3 linked regions of the Homo sapiens genome follow. The protein of the gene in region 1 interacts with the protein of each later gene in a pairwise test. Each region holds a gene or a part of one and is shown in the gene's direction. Other genes may lie near its edges.

Region 1 (7,119 bases):
AAAAACAATAAAAGCTGGTCCCTTGAGGCAAAAGAATAAAAAATAAATAAACGTCCAGTCAGATGATAGAGGAAGAAGAAAACCTTTGACAACATCCCACACCCACCATGACTGAAAGGCTTGAGCAAGCCTTTCAATCCTTTTCAATGAAAGGGAAATTCCTCGGTTTGATAAGAACCATTTACTACTCTCATCATTTCTATTCAACAAAGTACTGAAGAATTTAGCCAGTACAATAAAGCAAGATAAACAAATTAAATGCAGGCTGGGCACAGTGGCTCACGCTTGTAATCCTAGCACTTTGGGAGGTCGAGGCTGGCGGATCATCTGAGGTCAGGAGTTCAAGACCAGCCTGGCCAACACAGTGAAACCCTGTCTCTACTAAAAATACAAAAATTAGCTGGGCATGGTGGCAGGCGCCTGTAATTTAAAGTGAACACACTTAGGATGTCTTCAAGGGCCTGATAATGCTGAATTTACCCTGGTTTCCCAGCCCACAGTCACCTGAGACATTAACTACAGTTCCACAGCCACTAACCAATCCTATCCTTTCATGCACTTAGCCTGCAAAACTAAGAATTTAACCTTACATATAACCTTAAGCCCTCCAATTCACCAGGATAGTGAGACTATGAAATGTGAAAATTAATAAAAATAGATCAGAACACATTTCAGAAGACGACATATCAATAGTTGGCAAATGAATCAAACAGGAATGATTATACCCAAATGAGCAGGAGATAAAGGATGAATCTAAGCTAGGTTTGCTATGGACAGGAAAAAATAATTGCTGAGCCAGGTGAAGAGGCTTAGGCAAAAGAAAGAAAAAAAAAGTGATAAGTACTACAAAATTAATTTGTCTAGATTCTAGAACAAAAAATTTATATTTGGGTATGTGTGAGGTAATCTGAAAGATCAGATTAGGTCTCTGATAATCACAAAAAGTTGTGGAGTAGACTGAACAATATTATCTTCATTTATAGATAAGTAAATTCTAGCATAGAAAGGTTAACTTTTTTTTTTTTTTTTTTTTTGAGAGGGAGTCTCGCTCTGTTGCCCACGCTGGAGTGCAGTGGCGCAATTTCCGCTCACTGCAACCTCCGCCTTCTGGGTTCAAGTGATTCTCCTGCCTCAGCCTCCTGAGTAGCTGGGGTTACAGGCGGGGACCACCATGCCCAGCTAATTTTTGTATTGTTAGTACAGCCAGAGTTTCACCATGTTGGCCAGGCTGGTCTCCAACTTCTGACCTCGTGATCCGCCACCTCGGCCTCCCAAAGTGCTGGGATTATAGGCTTGAGCCACCGTGCCCAGCCAGAAAGGTTAACATTTGCCCATGGTCACAAAACTAGTTAGGGACAGGGCCAGCAATGAATAAAATTCATTTCTCTTGATTCACAGCCACATATTCATTTAATTAGATCATGATTCTGCTCAATGTTCTCCAATTTTGCCTAATATAACTCTTGAACAAAGTTTCTCACCATAAATAACCCTGCCCCCATTCACTTCTTCTTAAATGTCTACCCTTCCTCTGAAGAAATGTTTTCAAGCATATTTTCAAGATCTACTTTAAGACAAACCCTACCCTCTTACCAACAGACCTGATTACTGGACAATAAAAAGGAGGTTTCTATCCTTACTGACTACAGCCATATCCTTTCTGTGGCTACTAACAGATTTAGGTTCCAGTAATATTTTAAAAACTAACCTTGGATAATAGATTAGAAAATTACTAACTATTGCATAAAGCGGACTTCCTGCTTATTTATTGCTTGGAATTACCATCTTCAGTGCAGTCGAGGGTGAGTCTAACCGCATAGGGTGCAACTATGTTACTGTCCTTCCTCTTCACGGCAAATAAGACACACAATTCATCTTTCACAAGACCATAAAATGGGACTTCCTTTTTTAAAAAAAAGTTCCTCAATAGAAGCATGCTTAAAAATCTTTCCCACATCCTCTAAACCTTCCAAAGATCCAGTCTTCCCTTCATTATACTTTCCTACAATAACAAATTTTTTTGAAAGAGTACACTCAACCTGTCTGAACTTCAAGATTATAATTTTTATCTAGTACTGTACTTATCTCTGCCACCTACTCAAATTACCCTTAAGGAAACCAAGGATACCTGAAACGCCAAAATCAAATACTTATTTTTCAAGTCTTAACCTTATCTGTCCTGGGGATGAAGGAACTGGTGCAGTGTTCACTAGAATGATAGTAATTATGGAGCTCTTAAGGAGCTCTACTCTGTGCCAGGCACTGTACTAAGCATTCAAAAATGTTCATTTAATCTTCACAACATCCCTGAGAAGTACTACCCCCTTTTAATAGATTAAAATTGGGGCTCAAAATTACCCAGAGGCCAAGTAGTTAGTGAAGCCCATATGATTCCAATGTTTGCAGTCTCTTCCCAATTCTGTGGCATTTTCTCCATCTCTTTCACTATTTCATCAACGACGCTTATAATCAATTCTCTTATTTCACATGCTCTCCTTGGCAATTTCATTTCCTCCCAAAGCTTTAACTACATTCTATATTAGTGCTTCCCAACTTTTTAAATCTTTCTGTAAATATAAACATTTTGTGCTCTCTGTAGCTTATATTTTGAAAATAAGTTTTTTCCCATAGAAATTACAATATTGAATATGTTTGTTCAAACTACACTTCCTTCCACCACTCAAGATCTGTTAACCTCTAATGAATTGCCCCATGATTGACATCAATAGACCTTGATGCAGAAATATTTTATTGGAGAGATATCAAATCAATCTCTATTTCCTCTTCCCATGTCCACTTCTGCTAGACATTTCTCTCGAGTCATAAACATCTTTAACTGTCTAATAAGCATAGTTCCATGACTGTCGCCCCAGGCCCTTCAACATAAACCTGTCTAAAACCAAACTCTCATTTCCCTTAGCAAACCTGTTCTCTGCGTTCTCCAGCTAATCTTGTCACAACCCACCCTTGTCTATTCTTTAAGGTACCTACCTGCAAAACCGTAACGCTGATACTCTGACTTCCTTGAGCTACCAGGTAAAAAAATCAACCACTACAGGAGTGCCTATTATGGCCTGGAGTAGAGGAATGCAAAATAGTTCAAAATATCCTCTTCCTCCTGAAGAAACAGATTTTTTTTTTTTTTTGGAGAGGCATGTTCCAACTTATAAAATTAAAATATATTCACAAGCATTTTAATTTGATCTTTAATCTCTGTTTTACAGGAAAAAAAAATGAGATGTTACTTTCCACTCCTTCATTGTTGAAATAAACTTACACTCAACTAAAAGAAAACAGGTCTGAATACAATAAAAGTCAACAGGACAGCGCAAATAGCCAACTACCCAAGGACACAAAGTGACCTGGAGGCGTTCTGCGGTGGCGCTGCCGTCAAGGCCGGGGCCGCCTGGCCAGACCCTCCCTCAGACGCCCCCCGGGGCCGCCCTCACTCCCGCACGTCCCTCTGCAGCTGTCCTCAGCCGGTGGGGTCGGCAGTGACCGCGGGAAAACCCCGCTTGCTGTGCGACCCAGGGCGCGCTGAGCAGGGGCTGCGGCTGCCGCCGCTGTCCGGCTCCGGTTCCGGCCCCGGCCCCGGGCCCGGCCAGAGCTGAGTCCGGACTCAGCCAAAGCCCCTCGCCTTCAGCTTCCCAGACGTCCGACCAGTGGAAAATTAGCATACCTGGGGCAGAAGGCAGCTGCAGGGCCGGCAGTCCTGGCAAACCTAGAAGGCGGGAATAACCCTGGTGACGGGCGGGGCCGGGCTCCGGCGCTAACTGCATCCACTAGGTTTGGTCAACACAGAGCCGCGCCAACTCTCTGAGGCTGCGCCAAGACCTGAAGCGGCGGACCGAGAGCCCGGGTCTGAGACTGAGAGAGCAACGGAATGGAGGCGGGGTAGAGGCGGAAACACAACCTGCAGGGCCAGAGCGAGGCGCGAGAAGGACGGCGGCGTGAGGGGGCGGGGCGCGCAGCGCGAGAAGGCAGGCACGAGGGGCGAGCGCGAGGCGGGGCACGGCGCGTGGCGTGAGACGGGGCGGGGCGCGCGTATCGGCGCCGCGGCCGCGTGACGCGTTTTCAAATCTTCAACCGCCGCAGCCCACTCGTTTGTGCTTTGCGCCTTCCTCCTCCGCGCCTTGGAGCCGGATCCGGCCCCGGAAACCCGACCTGCAGACGCGGTACCTCTACTGCGTAGAGGCCGTAGCTGGCGGAAGGAGAGAGGCGGCCGTCCTGTCAACAGGCCGGGGGAAGCCGTGCTTTCGCGGCTGCCCGGTGCGACACTTTCTCCGGACCCAGCATGTAGGTGCCGGGCGACTGCCATGAACTCCGGAGCCATGAGGATCCACAGTAAAGGACATTTCCAGGGTAAGAAGCCCCTCCTCCGCCTGCAGTCCCTTTAATCCTTTCCTCCCCTCGTGGTTCCACCATTGATTCTTCAGACTTCTCCCGCCGGGTCCTCAGCTTCTTTTCTTCTGACCGGCCTCTGGGGTCTGAAGGAAGGAGCCCCCGTTCAGTGTTTTGCCTAAGAAGGAACGGATCCTGACCCGGCCCCTCGAGCGCTCTGCCGTTTACAGCGGCGGTCCCAGATTGATTCCCGGTCGTGCCTTCGGTTGAAAACTAGCAAACAATGTGCAGATCCGGGACCTCGCCGGGACTGCGGCGCTGTCTGCTCCCGGGCTCTCGCATATGCTAAGCCTCCGCCCGGGCCCTTGGAGGCGACGGACTGCATCCTCAATTTAAAGTCAGACGCGCTCGTGGCTTTTCGCTTCAGGATTAGATTGAGTGATTGTGGGTGGATTTTTGGTCTTACCCTTGAAAGTTTATTTTCCTTTCCTCATAAGTTGGGGGAAAGCATTGTATTTCAAACACCCCATTGCTGGTTTCAACATTACAAACAGGGAAACAAAAGCAAATTTCCATTTTCAGTCACTTTATTTGGTGAAACATTCCAGCACCTAAGTTTTTTGTACAGGTGTTTGTGTGTGTGTAGTAACTACCAATTTAAGAACAGATTGCGTTTGAAAAATTAATTTTTAAAGCAGTTGCTTGGATCTCAGATCTGTTTCTAATGAAAATAATGAAAGGTTTAGTTCTTCGTAATGGACCGTTAAGTTCTTAATACGTAGACAAATTGTATGTGAAATGGACCGTTTAGTTGTTAATATGCAGACAAACTTTATATGAAACTAAAACTTGAGCAGTCTGAAACCCTTGAGGACTAGGTTATTCTGCGTAACAGAGGATTCTTTCATCGCTAAATGAAGTTTAAACACCAGTTTTGAATGTTCAGCAGAATGGCAGATGCTCAATAAATAGTTGAGTATTAAATATCCCCATGGAGTTTACATCCTAAAAAAAGAAAATCTTTCAAAAGAGTTTTATATAGTTCCGTGCCTCAGGAATAAACACACGAATATTTCTTGCTGAGTCAACTATTATTTTACAATATGCGGTCTGTGAAAGTATATAGGGCATTTTGCCTCTATCCTAAGTAGTACTACAAAGAAATACATTTCAATGCTAATAACTTAAACTGGTAGGGTTGTAAGGATTTTTATTCTGTAATATTGTATAATGAAATATTTTAAAAATAGTAAAAGTGTCTGTGTAAAACATCTGATTCTAAACATCTTTAATAGGTGGAATCCAAGTCAAAAATGAAAAAAACAGACCATCTCTGAAATCTCTGAAAACTGATAACAGGCCAGAAAAATCCAAATGTAAGCCACTTTGGGGAAAAGTATTTTACCTTGACTTACCTTCTGTCACCATATCTGAAAAACTTCAAAAGGACATTAAGGATCTGGGAGGGGTAAGTGAAAACCGTACACTGGCATAGAAGGAAAAATTTGTAACTAGTACTTTCTACTGTGTAATCATTTAAATTTTTCATTTTGGAAAACGCTTCTATTAGCACCAAGCTTAACATTTTTATCAGCTGTTTATCGTTAACAAAAAACCATTTGTTTTAACCTTTTGTGGACTGACAGACCTTTCAGGTTTCTCTGATTAGCAGTCTAGTGTAAAGTTCTTAGAGTGTAAGACTCCCCTGTCCTAGTGGAACTGCTCATTGACTGCTTACTGTAATGTTGGAATGTCCTCCAGATAACAGCAATTTCTTGATTATGAATCTTGGGGAGCTACATAAGTTTGTCTGGACTAGTGTAACAGTTAAGAATGTTACTACAGAACAGCCATGCAAACCACAGTTAAAATTGTTCCTGAGTGATACAGATGTTGTTTCAACAGAATGAATGTTATTAAAGGAAAAGAAATTTGCATTAAGAATCTGGAATACCTTCTTTCCTACCTTATACACTGATTAGATGATTGGGAAATTAGAAAACTCAGGCAAAATTCTAGGACCTTAATAGGATTAAGGTTGATATTGGCTGAATTTTGGCAAATGAGGTAATTAAGATTTTTTTCTGTTTAAAAGGTTCATGCTGGACTTTGACTTTCTGAAGGTCTGCGTCTTTGAATGTCTAAACTGATCCTTTCATTCCCAGACTAGTAACTTTTCAATTTATTTTTATTTTTATTTTGAGACGGAGTCTCATTCTATATGGCCTAGGTTGGAGTGCAGTGGTGCGATCTCAGCTCACTGCAACCTCCTCCTCTCAGGTTCAAGTGATTCTTGTGCCTCAGCCTCTGTCTCCTGAGTAGCTACGATTACAGGCATGTGCCACCACTCCTGGGTAATTTTTGTATTTTTAGTAGAGTCAGGGTTTCACCGTGTTGCCCAGGCTGGTCTCAAACTTCTAACCTCAGGTGATTTGCCCACCTCAGCCTTCTAAAGCGCTGGGATTGCAAGCATGAGCCCTCCAGGCCCAGCCGATTCCCAGACTAGAAACTTATCAGAAGAACATGTGCTAACAGGTTTCCTGGAACTGTTAATATATTTTATTTACTTATCTCTGAAAAGTTATTCTACTTTTTTACTATTCATTTTGTTAAACTAAAACACTGTCACATGCTTGTAATAGTTGTATTTATGGTAATGATCATATGACAGCATTCTTAAAGGTCATGTTTTCTAGGCCTGCCACCCTATTGACTATACACCTATTAAGAGTATCTTAATGTGTTAAGGACCTTAGACATTGAGTAAAAAATACCCCT
Region 2 (7,112 bases), on another chromosome or scaffold:
GGGCTATTATATTAGCACAGATCTAGCATATTCCTAACATCAGGAAGTTCTCTGTACAGCACTGATCTAGAGGACACCGCTTTTTAGTATGTGATGCTAGTTTTTTTGGATAACCAGCTACTCACTGACTCTCTTTCAGGATCTGAATTTGGTCACTGTATCTTATCCGTTCTAGGGGTTTTGTTTTTGTTTTTGCTTTTTTTGTTTTTGAGATGGAGTTTCGTTCTTGTCACCCAGGCTGGAGTGCAACAGTGTGATCTCGGCTCACTGCAACCTCCTCCTCCCAGGTTCAAGCAATTCTGCCTCAGCCTCTGGAGTAGCTGGGATTACAAGTGCCTGCCACCATGCCCAGCTAATTTTTTTTTTTTTGAGACTGAGTCTTGCTCTGTCACTCAGGCTAGGGCGCAGTGTTACAATCTTGGCTCACTGCAGCCTCTGCCTCTTGGGTTCAAGTGATTCTCCTGCCTCAGCCCCCTGAGTAGCTGGGATTACAGGTGCATGCCACCATGCCCAGCTAATTTTTGTATTTTTAGTAAAGACAGGGTTTCACCATGTTGGCCAGGCTGGTCTTGAACTCCTGACCTAGTGATCCGCCCACCTTGGCCTCCCAAAGTGCTGGGATTGTAGGCGTGAGCCACCACACCGAGCCGCTAATTTTTGTATTTTTAGTAGAGACAGGATTTCACCATGTTAGCAAGGCTGGTCTCGAACAGGTGATCTGCCTGCCTCGGCCTCTCAAAGTGCTGGGATTATAGGCGTGAGCCACCGCGCCCGACCCAGACCCTCATCTCCAATGCTACTGTCAAAATTAAAGCCATCGTAGTCTCTTTCCTGGACGCTGGAACAGCCCTCTAACTGGTTTCTTGCCTCCAGTCTTGCTTCTCTTCCACCTGCCATACTGGAACCAAGTCCTTCAGTGACTTCTTGTTACCCTTACTATCTGATCCAGGACTTTTAAAGTGGTTTATGAGGCCCTTGTTGGCTCCACCCTTGCCTTGCTCTGAGACTTTATCACTGCGTACCCCCTCCTCATACTCCATCCCAGCCGCACTGAACCTTTTTTCAGTTCTTTAATTTTGAACCTGTGTCTAGGCCTTTTTGCATCTGCTGATTTCTTGTGCCTGATTCCCCCTCCCATCCCATGTCCACTTTTCTGGCTAAGTCTTACTTTTCCTTTGGGAACTTAAGTTAGGTACCAAAGTAGGGTACCCCTGCTCCATGTTACTGCAGGATCCTATTATATATGTCTTTGAAAAATAGTGTGTAAAGTGCATTGTTGAAATTCCTTGTTTCGGAAGTTCCTTTGCTGGATTTTGACCCCGCGAATTCAGGGCCCCTGTATCTGCATTATTCACCACTGTATCCTAATTTCTTAGAATTTGCCTTGTACATTGAAAGTGCTCAGTGGACACTTGTTGAACAAAAGCAGTGAAAAGACTGATTAATCAGAAATGTTGTTAATTGAAATGGCTAGTGAGATCACAAATCTCAAAATTTTTCTTTTCTTTTTTTCTGGAGTCAGTGTCTTGCTCTGTTGCCCAGGGTGGAGTGCAGTGGCGTGATCTCGGCTCACTGCAACCTCCGCCTTCTGGGTTCAAGCCATTCTCATGCCTCAGCCTCTCGAGTAGCTGGGATTAAAAGTGTGCACCACCATGCCTGGCTAATTTTTCTATTTTTAATAGAGACAGGGTTTTGCCATGTTGGCCAGGCTGGTCTTGAACTCCTGGCCTCAAGTGATCTGCCCCCACTTGGCCTCCCAGAGTGCTGAGATCTCAGGTGTGAGCTGCTGCGCCCAGCCTCTTTAGCTGTTTTCCCTTCAACTATTGGTTAGACCAAGATCATTATTCTCGTTATATTTAAGCTTCTTTGGTTGTATCTAACAGAACTAGACTAGCTCATGCAAAAAAGAGCAGGGTTGGGTGAAGAGGGGCAGAGCAGACTATTTTATCACTAGCATTTTAGAGAATTTAAAGCAATAATAAAATGAACTAAAAGTTAGTTGGTCTGCTTTTTATTATCACCATGAATCTAAACAGACAATCTGTGCCCTTATTGTCTGTACCCAGCTTGGACCTCTTCTACCACTCTGTCCTTGGTAGGCCACTGAAAAAAGTTAATTTATATTAAGGCTATAAAACCCAAGAACAGGGGAAGTGGTTGGGTATTCGAAGAGACTGAGTGGAATCAGGAACTGGAAAGCTAGCAGGAATCCAAGCAACTCAGTATTTCTTCTCTTGGGATACATTAATCTCTGCACACTTTCTCTTTCTCTACTCCATGTCTCCCAAATTTACTTGTTCTCGGTTCCAACCCACGCTAGCTAGCATCTTTATTTTCAGGCATAGAAAATCTGATTGGCACAACATGGAGTCAGGAATCCATTCACTCAGGGATCAGTCATCTGTGGCCATGGCACAGAGTTAGGTAGGACAATCGTGACTGTTATCCACACCTCAACATTGGGGGCGTTCTCAAAGAAGAAGAATAGCTCCGGCAGCCATGGCAGATGGCATACGTAGGAGTTTTTAAGTTATAATAACTTACACATGGTTTTAAAAAAAATCAACATGATGGTATGAACTGAGTGAAAGTACGTGCTCCCTCCATTGAAGTAACCACTTTTTTTTTTTTTTTTTTTTTTTTTTTTTGAGATGGAGTCTCGCTCTGTCGCCCAGGCTGGAGGGCAGTGGTGCGATTTCGGCTCACTGCAACCTCTCCCTCCCAGGTTCAAGCGATTCTCATGCCTCAGCCTCTTGAGTAGCTGGGACTACAGGCGACCACCACCACACCTGGCTAATTTTTGCATTTTTAGTAGAGTCGGGGCTTCACCGTGTTGGCCAGGATGGTCTCGACCTCCTCTGCCCTCGTGATCCACCACCCTCGGCCTCCCAAAGTGCTGGGATTAGAGGCATGAGCCACCGTGCCCTGCCTGAAGTAACCGCTTTTAACTGTTTTTGCTTTTAGAGGTTTTTTTCTTTGAGACAGAGTCTCGCTCTGTCACCCAGGCTAGAGTGCAGTGGCACGATCTCTGCTCACTGCAACCTCTACCTCCCAGGTTCAAGCAGTTCTACTGCCTCAGCCTCCCGAGTAGTTGGGACTACAGGCGCCTGCCACCACACCCAGCTAACTTTTTGTATTTTCGTAGAGATGGTGTTTCACTATGTTGCTCAGGCTGGTCCAAAAAAATTTTTTTTCTTTGAAATAAAATTCACATAACAAAATTTAACATTTTAAAATGTACAATTGAATTTTTTTTACTGTATTCATAATGATGTTGTGCAACCATCACCACCACTATCTTTTTCTCTTTTTTTTGAGACGGAGTCTCACTCTGTTGCCCAGGCTGGAGTGCAGTGGTGCAAACTTGGCTCACTGCAACCTCTGCTTACCGGGTTCAAGCGATTCTCTTGCCTCAGCCTCCCAAGTAGCTGGGATCACAAGCATGCACCACCATTCCTGGCTAATTTTTGTATTTTTAGTAGAGACGGAGTTTTACCATGTTGGTCAGGCTGCTCTTGAACTCCTGATCTCAGGTGATCCACACGCCTCGGCCTCCCAAAGTGTTGGGATTACAGGCATGAGCCACCACGCCCGGCCACCCCTATCATTTTCATCACTCCAAAAAGAAACCCCATACCTTTAGTAGTCTCTCCCATTTCTTCTGTCTTCCATCTCTGGCAACAACTATACTTCTGCCCATGGATTTACCTATTCTGGACGTTTCGTGTAGGTGGAATTATACAACATGTGGCCTTTGAGGTCTGGCTTCTTTTCATTTACCATGATATTTTCATGGTTCATCCATGTCATAGTATGCATCAGTACTGCATTCCTTTTTTTTTTTTTTTTAAGAGATAGAGCCTGGCTCTGTCGTCCAGGCTGGAATGCTGTGTGGCAAGATCATGGTTCACCGCAGCCTTGAACTTCCAGTCTCAAGTGATCCTGCAGCCTCAGCTTCCTGAGTAGCTGGGACTACAGGCATGTATTACCTGTATTACCACACCCAGCTAATTTTTAAATCATTTTTTGTAGATTTGGGGTCTCACTATGTTGCCCAGGCTACACTCAAACTCCTGGCCTCAAGTGACCCTCCCGCCTCGGCCTCCCAAAGTGCTGGGATTACAGATGTGAGCCACTGTACCCAGTCTGCATTCCTTTTTATGGCTGAAAATAACATTCCATTGTATGTCTATACTGCATTTTGTTTATCCATATATTTGCTGATGGACACTTAGGTTATTTCCTGGCTGTTATAAATACTGCTACTATAAACATTCATGTACAAGTTTTTGTGTGAATGTAAGCTTTTTGGTTCTTTCCCAGATATACCTAGGGATGGAATTGCAAGGTCATATGATAATTTTATATTTAACTTTTTGAGGAATTGCCAAACTTTTCCACAGTGGCTGCACCATTTTACTTCCCAGGTTCAAGCAATTCTCCTGCCTCAGCCTCCCAAGTAGCTGGGATTACAGGTACCACCAGCAAGCCCAGCTAACTTTTGTATTTTTAGTAGAGATGAGGTTTCACCATGTTGGCCAGGCTGGTCTCAAACTACTGATCTCAGGTAATCTGCCTGCCTTGGCCTCCCTAAGTGCTGGGATTACGGGCATAAGCCACTACGCCTGGCCTAAAATGTTTTTAAGAAAGGTTGTGTGAGAAGAGAACAAGAGGCACATTATATAATGTTAAAACAGTCAGTTCACCAAGAAGACCTAACTATATATGCACCAAGCAACAGAGCTTCAAAATGTATGATGCAAAAACCAGCAGAAATAAAAGAAGAAATAGGCAAATCTGCAATTGTAGTTAGATATTTTACTACTCCTCTCTCAGTACTTGACAGAATAGTGGGTAGAAAATCAAAAAGAATACTGAACAACACAAAACTACACAACACTGTCAACCAAGTAGATCTAATTGACATTTGTTTACCTAATGACAGCAGAATACACATTCTTTTCAAGTGCACATGTAAATTCACCAAGATAAACCACATTCTGGGTCATAAACCAAATAGTAAACTTTATATATAAGAAGAACACTTCTAAACAATCCATGGATTAAAAACTCTCAAAGGAAAGCTTTGAATATTGTGAACTAAACCAAAATGAAAACTCAACATACCAAAATTTGTGGGATACAGCCAAAGACATGCTTAGATGCATTAGCTGCCTTAATTAGAAGAGAAGGTCTCAAGTGAATAATTTAAGCTTCCACCTATGAAACTAGAAATGAAGAGCAAAATAAACCCAAATTAAACAGAAGAAAGAAATAATAGAGAACAAAAATCCATGAAATAGAAAACAGAAAAAAAAGAAAAAATCAGTGAAACTCAAAGCTCTTTAAAAAAAAAATCAATAAAATTGTAAACCTCTAGCCATACTGGCAAAGGAAAAAAAAAAAGGAAAACAAATTACCAATAGTAGAAAAGAAAAAAAGGAAGACAAATTACCAATATTAGAAAAGAAAGAGGAGATAACCACCGTAGACTGTACAGGCATGAAAAGGATAATACAAACAGCTCTACAGATAGAAATTCATCAACTTAGATGAAATGGACCAGTTCCTCAAAAACCACTGTATTAGCTTTCTATTTCTCCTGTAATAAATTACAAATGTAGTGACTTTAAAACAAAAGGTTTTTATTTACAGTCCTGGAGACAGAAGTCTGACATGGGTCTTACTGGGATAAAATCAAATTGTTGACAGGACTTGCATTCCATTGTGGAGGCTTTAGGAGAGAATCTGTTCCTTTTCTTTTCCTGCATCTAGAGTCTGCCCACATTTCTTGGCTTGTGGCCCCCTTCCGTTTTCAAAGACAACAAGTCGAGTTGTTCTCACATCTTACTCTAACTTCCTCTTTTGCCACATCCTTCCACATTTAAGGACCGTTGTGATTACATTGAACCCACCCAGATTGTTTTTTTTTTTAAGTTCAACTGATTATTAACCTTAATTCCATCTGCTACCTTAATTCCTATGTAACATATCTTTACAAGTTCTGGGGATTAGAACATCAGTATCTTGGTTGGGTGGGAGGGGGTCATTATTCTGCTGATCACAGCCACAAACTATCCAAACTCACCCAAGTAGAATAATATTTCACCTTTTACGTCTGGCTTATCTCACTTAGCATAATGTTTTCAAGGTTTATTCCTGTGTCTTCGTTGCTTTTTTTTTTTTTTTTTTTTTTTTTTTTTTTTTTTTTTGAGTCTGAGCCTCACTCTGTCTCCCAGGCTGGAGTGCAGTGGTGCGATCTCAGCTCACTGAAACCTCCGCCTCCTGGGTTCAAGCAATTCTCCTGTCTCACCCTCCCGAGTAGCTGGGATTACAGGCGTGTGCCACCACGCCCGGCTAATTTTTGTATTTTTAGTAGAGACGGGGGTTTGCCATGTTGGCCAGGCTGGTCTTGAACTCCTGACAGGTGATCCGCCCGCCTCGGCCTCCCAAAGTGCTGGGATTACAGGCGTGAGCCACCCCGCCTGGCCCTCGCTGCATTTTAATAAAGATACAAAAGCTAATTCAAATGGAAAAAGGATATTCTTTTCATCAAAGACATGAACAATTTAACATTTACATGGAAAAATAAAATCCTCAACCTTTACCTCATATTTTATATAAAATTAACTCAAAATGGATCATACATCTGAGTATAAAACCTGAAACTATAAAACTTTTAGAAGAAAACAGATCTTTGTGACCTGGGGTTTGGCAATGAGTTCTTAAGACATGACACCGAAGGCACAGTGCGTAAAACAAAAATTTGATAAATTGGGCTTCATCAAAATTAAAAACCTTTGTTCTGTAAAAAAAAATTCTATTAGGAGCATGAAAAGACAAGCTATACACTGGGAGAATATATTTGAAAATCCGGTATCAGAAAAAGAACTTGAATCCAGAATATATAAGAAAACACAGCAGTAATTTAAAAACTCAATTTTAAAAGGGGCAAAAGATTTAAGTAGGCTTAAATAGACATTTCACCAGATAGGATACAAGGATGGCAAATATCCCCCTGAGAAGAGTTCAGCATTGTTAGCCATTAGGGAAATGCAAATTTAAGCCATGATATTGCATATTAGAACAGCTAAAATTTAAAAATACATAGT
Region 3 (7,112 bases), on another chromosome or scaffold:
TTTCTAGGACCTAATTTCCCTCTCAAGAACTTGTCTGAAAAACAGTAAATAATTTTATTTGATTGTTTATTTGTTTATTTATTTTTTTGAGACAGTCTCACCCTGCCACCCGGGCTAGAGGGCTGTGGCACAGTCTCGGCTCACTGTAACCTCTGCCTCCTGGGTTCAAGCCATCCTCTCAACTCAGCCTCCCAAGTAGCTGGAATCACAGGCACATGCCACCATGCCCAGCTAATTTTTGTATTTTTAGTAGAGACAGGGCATTTCACCGTGTTGGTCAGACTGGTCTCGAACTCCTGACCTCAAGTGATCTGCCTGCCTTGGCCTCCCAAAGTGCTGGGATCACAGGTGTGAGCCACCACTCCTGGCCATATTCCATTTCCTAATCTTCAAAATGTATATTACTGACCTGGTTTGGTGGCTCATGCCTGTAATCCCAGCACTTTGGGAGGCTGAGGTGAGAGGATTGCTTGAGCCCAGGAATTTGAGACCAGTCTGGACCTGGCGAAACCCCATCTCTACAAAAAATACAAAAATTAGCCACGCGTGGTGCACACCTGTCCTCCCAGCTACTCAGGAGGCTGAGGTAGGAGGATTGCTTGAGCTCAGGAGGTTGAGGCTGCAGTGAGATTGCACCACTGCACTCCAGCCTAGGCAACAGAGCATGACCCTGTCTAAAAATAAATAAGTAAATAAAATATATATTACATAGGTGTTCATTAAATGTTTTGTTTTAGCATTGGAATGTAAACACTGTACACATATACACAATATATTGGGATACATACACAGGTAAAAGAAGAAACTTCAGATATTCTGATGAAGTCAGATACTGATGTTTATTTACCAATTTTAGTTTAAAAATACTTATTATGGTGCTTGTTTCAGCATCGTAAGTCCCCAAACTGGGGTGATACAGAAAAGATTAGCATGGCCTCTGTACAAGGATGACATGCAAATTCATGAAGGTTTCATGTTTTTAAAAAGAAAAAAAACTATTATGTTGATTCCATGGTAATTCCAAGACTCCCATTCTGTTGATAATGCCAATAAAATTATTGACACTTTTTTCTTTTAATGTTATTTAACTTTCTTTACTCTTTAGGTTGAACGCTGTTATTTCTTCTTGAGTGCTTTTGTGGACACAGCCCAGAGAAAGGAGCCTGAGGATGGGAGGCTGGTGCAGTTTTTGCTTATGAACCCTGCAAATGATGGTGGCCAATGGGATATGCTTGTTAATATTGTTGGTAAAAGTTCTTTCTTTAATGGAACTGAAACTCAGCATGATTAAGTAAGCCTGTAGTTAGGCATGGGCCAATTCTTTGGTGGTTGTGTACAGAGTAGAATTGGTCTCCAAGAAGGATATATAGTTATTTCTAAGGACCTTTAGTTCACATTCTCACCTATAAAGTGCCTTCTTAAATGAGGATTAAGGAGAGAGCTACTGTGAAGGATGGGTTGGAGAAGAAAAGGTAGTATTAAGGAGAACTAATTTTCCATGAAAAAATTGTTTTCTTCTCCATTGATGTAATCAGGAAACACATTAAAACTGTAGCTGTGTTAAAATGTCTTCAAAACATCTTTTGGGGAAATCTCATCATGCTGAGCACTTTACAAAAGTATGATAGATACACTTGAGCTTGACCAAAAGGCTGAGAAGTGACAAAGTATAGTAGATAAAAAGGATAACATAGACAGATAAATATGCACATTAAAAACCTACTTAGGCTGGGTAAGGTGGCTCAGGCATGTAATCCTAGCACTTTGGGAGACCAGGGCAGGAGGATTGCTCAAGCCCAGGAGCTCAGTACCAGCCTGGGTAACATAGTGAGACCCTGTCTCTACAGAAAATAAAACAAATAGCTGCACATGGTATCATGCACCATAGTTGCCGCTACTCAGGAGGTCAAGCCTGGGAGTTCAAGGCTGCAGTGGGCCAGGATCGTGTCACAGCACTCCAGCCTGAGTGACAGAGCAAAACTCTGTCAAAAACAAAAAACAAAAAACAAAAAACCCTGCTTCATAATATGAAGTATAAGATTTTCTGAAGTAAGCCAGCAAAATATCGCCTATTTTTTGAAACAATCACTATTTTTGCCAGGGTTTCTAATTTTTTACCTTCTTTAACACTAGAATTTGTTTTCTTTTAGAAAAATATGGTGTTATCCCTAAGAAATGCTTCCCTGAATCTTATACAACAGAGGCAACCAGAAGGATGAATGATATTCTGAATCACAAGGTACAATATATGAAGCAGGGTGGGATTGAGTTTAGTGTACTTTCCTTCAAACTTATTTTTTAAAAGGGGTTCCTGGGTATCTCTGTATACAGTTTGTGTACAAGATAACTACCAATGTCAATGTCTGTCAAAAGCAATGTAGCTACTTAATAACTTTAAAAATAATTAATATTAGAGGGTTTTTCCTTTTAAAAAACTTCCACTTTTATTTCTGTTGATGTTAATGTTTTCTTAGGGGGATAGTTAGGAAATAAAGTCCCATGTCCAATTAATATTGGCCACAAGCACACAGGGTGCGGTGTCTCTCACTTGGTTCTAGTGGAGGTGGGCTAGGACTGCTTTATGTGCTAGTAAAACCAAAAAGAGCTATTCGCAAGATTCCCTTAAAGAGTGTGCTGTGTTCTGAGACTTCCCCAGACCACATCAATGTGGTTTATCCACCCACTAAAGATTTGTTGTAGTTATTGAACTGCTTTTTATTTGCTTCAGTTATCTTAATGAATCATTGTGTCTTCTCTACATAACCAGTTTTCCCTAGGAGAGTTATAATTCCTACGGGGATGCTGCTTTGCTAGCCAGGCATGGTTTTTGAGAACTGGGAGTTGCCAGAATCTGCTGTCCTAATCCATGAGGCTGAAATTGGATTTTTCATCTCCCTGGGAGAAAGATTACATTTTAAAATCAACTATAGGTGTGTCTCCCCAACATTAGAAGTAGACTATTTTCCACCCTGGAAACGCTGGGGATTCTTATCCAAAGGCTAAAAGATCATTAATAGTACGGCATTTGATTCCATTTGAAGTCAGAGCAACATCCTCTTTAGCACTGTGGTTAAATTTCAGACTCACCTTTATCTTGGTGAAAAAATGAAATGAAAAAATGAAAATTTTATTGGGGGCTGGCATAACCATAGTCATAGTCAGCCGGCAGAGAAGGAAAAATGGACAGCTATTGAAATTCTAAGTAAAAATCTATGAGAGTAACATAGTGGCATAATTATCTTGTCTCCTGCTTTTTCTGAGTGATAGGCATTATGTGATCACATGTTTTCCCCATGCCCAGACACATAAAACACCTTTATGCGATGTTTGCAGAGAAGGAGCAGTTCCGTCTAGTATTTTGGAGGAGTAACTTATGCCTTTTCTCCTTATGGAAAGCATTTTTAGCTATGTGTTTAAGTGGACAAGTTGAAGAAAAACACATTTGCCTTTATGAACTCTGTCATGGGTCTGGCCTGAGTTATACCTCAAAATAGAACTTGCGTTGGTCTATGAGAGTCATTTACAATTGAATTCGGGTAACTGTTGGAGTGCTGAATAAGTTTCTGTCATAGATGAGAGAATTCTGTATACGACTGCGGAACCTGGTACACAGTGGAGCAACCAAAGGAGAAATCTCGGCCACACAGGACGTCATGATGGAGGAGGTAATAACAAAATTTGGATTTTTTTGTGACCCCTCTAAGGAACTCTCAGAATATTCCCATCTGTTAAAGTAATGATTAGGAAGCTTTAGTCATGGCAACGAATGTTTAATTGAATTGAAAATTACTTATTTTACACTGAAAAAACTGAGCTTAAAACTTACTTTGCCTTTTAGTGTAGGACTTGGACTTGGATTTTCTAATTCGTAGTTTAGTGGTCTGTATAATCATTCTTTTATCATTTCATAAATATTAAATACCTTCTATGAGTTTGGCACTGAGGAAACAGATGAGAAAGACATAGTCACTGCTCTTAAAGAGCTCAGTCTCTTGGGAAAAAGAAAACACATCTATAATGATGATAAATCCTATGCTAGATGTGTAAAAACTGATTTGGTGGTCATAGAGGAGGGAGTGACTAGCTCAGTGAGCTGAAGCTTTCATAGGGAAGATAGCTCTTGAAAGAGTAGTCAGAATTTACCAGGTAGATAACAAGACCATTCTAGGCAAAAGGAATTGTATGAACAGTGCCATAAACAAAGATAGAACCTTCAGGGAATCATGTGGCTGAAACATAACTTTTTTCAGTATGATGGGTAGCAAATTAAGCTAGAAAGGCAGAGATGTAAGGGATGTTGGATCGATGCCAGAACATTTGGCTTCTTTCTGTAGAAATAAAGACGGAGCTATTGATGGTTATATTTGTTAATGTATGTAAAAACATTTTAGAAAATGTAAAAAGCACTAAAATATGAGGTGGTAATATTATTTATGATCAAGACAGTTAAGAAACTTTATTATTAATACTATCCATGTCCAGAATGAATATGCATAAAACTGCAATTGGTTTGAGGAAAGAATAAATGTTTCCGTTTGTCAGCCAGTAGGCCCTTTATTAGGCTTCCTTTCAAGACTGTATGGAGTTAAAATGGCCTACTTTTTTTCACTGCGATGGAAAACACTAATGCTTCACTTGTGTTTTCCTTTAAATCTTAGAGATGCAGCATAGTGGAGCAGTGGAGTGTGTAATCTCTGAAGTCAGGCTATCTGAGCTCTAGTCTTCTCATTACTTTATATCCTGGGACAAGTTCCTTAAGCTCTAAAGGCTCAGTTCATATTTAACATGTCTAGCCTAGTGCTTGGCACAATAGCTGTTTCTTAAGTATTTGTTGAGTGGACGAATGCAGAAATTTCATTTACCAAATGCATTTAAATAATCTCATTTTTATCTCTTAAATTCTTACAGAAGAGAGGCATCTTAGTATAGTAGGAAAAAATAGGCTTTGGAGTCAGACATACATGGGTTTAAATTCTGACTCTTTTACTTAACAGTCTGTGATCCTAGGTAAGTTACTTAACCTGTCTGAGATTCAGTCAGGATCTGAAATATTTTCCTTATTGGATTTTTGGGGAATCAAGGATTAAATGTAAGCATGCAAGGCATAGTGCCTGGCACGTAGCAGGAGTTCTGTAAATGTTACTTCTTCCCTTCTTGCTTGGAATGACTGTCTTGCAGAGGCTATATCTGCTACATAATTTGCCTTTATTTAGGGTTAGATTAAGATGGTGGGGGCCAGGCACGGTGGCTCATGCCTGCAGTCTCAGCACTTTGGGAGGCCAAGGTGGGCGGATCATAAGGTCAGGAGATCAAGACCATCCTGACCAACATGGTGAAACCCCGTCTCTACTAAAATACAAATAATTAGCTGGGCGTGGTGGTATGCGCCTGTAGTCCCAGCTACTCGGGAGGCTGAGGCAGGGGAATCACTTGAACCCAGGAGGCAGAGCTTGCAGTGAGCCGAGATTGTGCCACTGTACTCCAGCCTGGTGACAGAGTGAGACTCCGTCTCCAAAAAAAAAAAAAAAAAAAAAGATGGAGGTATAGTAGGAATGAAGGTTCTGCAAACAGTTGTGGAAAAGGGCCCAGATAATACTTGCTGTAGATAATAAGCATCCTTTTGGCTTTTGATGTTTGCTTTAATGATCTTTGAACTAATGATGTGTCTAAGATTGATGTCCTCATCATTGGTAGAGCGTGGTAATTGGCTGGTAAGAATTAGGGCAGATATGTTTCACATATTTTTTTCCTCCCCTACTCCTGCCTCAGAGAAATAGTAGATCCAACTTTACCAAATCCTGAGTATGAATGTTTTATAGGATTATTTACTTAATGATTCTACCTAAACTATTTACTACAGAATTCTGTGTGTAAGGGTTTTTTCCCCCTTAGAGACAGAGTCTTGCTTTGTTGCCCAAGCTGGAGTGCAGAGGCGCAGTCATAGCTTACTGTAACTTTCAACTCCTGGGCTCAAATGCTGCTTCAGCCACCCAAGTAGCTGGGACTACAGGTGCATGCCACCATGCCCAGCTCATTTATTAAAAAAATTGTGTAGAGATTCAGTCTCACTATATTTCCCAGGCCGATCTCCACCACCTGGGCTCAAGCAGTCCTCCCACCTTAGCCTCCCAAAGATTGTGCATATTATAAAGTGTGAGCCGCCATACCTGGCCCTGTGTATAAGGTTTTAAAATTTTTACAATCCCCCAAATGACTTCTTTTCATTGAACCTGACTCTTTGGTAATGAAGAGTCTAGCTGCAGTTTTAAAGCCCCAAATTAGTACCTATGATTTGTGTAACCTTGTAGGCAAGTCAAAATGATGGCTTAATCAACAGCCGTGAAGCTCAGATAGCTTTGAATAAAATGTGTTTATGCTAAAGGCATTCTTACTGAGAAGTGAGACGCAGGCTGCTTGTTGAGATGACAGGCAAGGCAGATCTGTTTTGGAGATGTGTAGTTACCTCTATTGCAATGTTATCTCAGTGTCCATTTTTTTAGCCTGCGGATCCCCTTAAGATTATTAATGTATTCTCAGTTGGGCGCAGTGGCTCATGCCTATAATCCCAGCACTTTGGGAGGTCAAGGCAGATGGATCACTTGAGGCCAGGAGTTCAAGACCAGCCTGGCCAACATGGCAAAACCCCGTCTCTACTAAAATACGAAAAAAACATCTGGGCATAGTGGTGCATGCCTATAATGCCAGCTGCTTGGGCAGCTGAGACACAAGAATCACCGGAACCCTGCAGGTGGTGGAGACCAAAATTGTGCCACTGCAGTCCAGCCTGGGTGACAGAGCAAGGCTCTGTCTCAAAAAAAAAAAAAAAAAAAAAACCTTGTCTGTTAAAAAGCAAAACATAGCCAGGCATGGTGGTAACACTTGTAGTGCCAGCTACTTGGGAGGCTAAGGCAGATCACTTGAGTCCAGAAACCCAGGAGTTCAAGTGCTACCTGGGCAACCTAGTGAGACCTCATTTCTAAAATCAATCGATCAGTCAATCAAAGACCAAAACCAATATTTGTCAGTGCCACAAAAAGGGAAAAGAAGCCTTTATGATTGACTTAGGAAATTCTATAGCAGTGGCTGTCAGCTATTGAAAACAATATATAGGA

The links.
Region 2: the proteins of DBF4 (region 1) and MCMBP interact in a two-hybrid assay, tested with the Homo sapiens proteins (one study listed by BioGRID).
Region 3: the proteins of DBF4 (region 1) and BLMH interact in binary tests that used the Homo sapiens proteins (3 or more experiments, as listed by UniProt).

What each region holds. Positions count from the first base shown.
Region 1 is NC_000007.14:87,872,417-87,879,535, forward strand, and holds the start of DBF4 (protein DBF4 homolog A), read left to right. Parts: upstream 1-4,076; 5' UTR 4,077-4,316; coding exon 4,317-4,362; intron 4,363-5,636; coding exon 5,637-5,809; intron 5,810-7,119. UniProt on the Homo sapiens protein: Regulatory subunit for CDC7 which activates its kinase activity thereby playing a central role in DNA replication and cell proliferation. Required for progression of S phase.
Region 2 is NC_000010.11:119,862,829-119,869,940, reverse strand, and holds part of MCMBP (mini-chromosome maintenance complex-binding protein), read left to right. Parts: intron 1-7,112. UniProt on the Homo sapiens protein: Associated component of the MCM complex that acts as a regulator of DNA replication.
Region 3 is NC_000017.11:30,281,941-30,289,052, reverse strand, and holds part of BLMH (bleomycin hydrolase), read left to right. Parts: intron 1-1,105; coding exon 1,106-1,247; intron 1,248-2,150; coding exon 2,151-2,239; intron 2,240-3,572; coding exon 3,573-3,665; intron 3,666-7,112. UniProt on the Homo sapiens protein: The normal physiological role of BLM hydrolase is unknown, but it catalyzes the inactivation of the antitumor drug BLM (a glycopeptide) by hydrolyzing the carboxamide bond of its B-aminoalaninamide moiety thus protecting normal and malignant cells from BLM toxicity.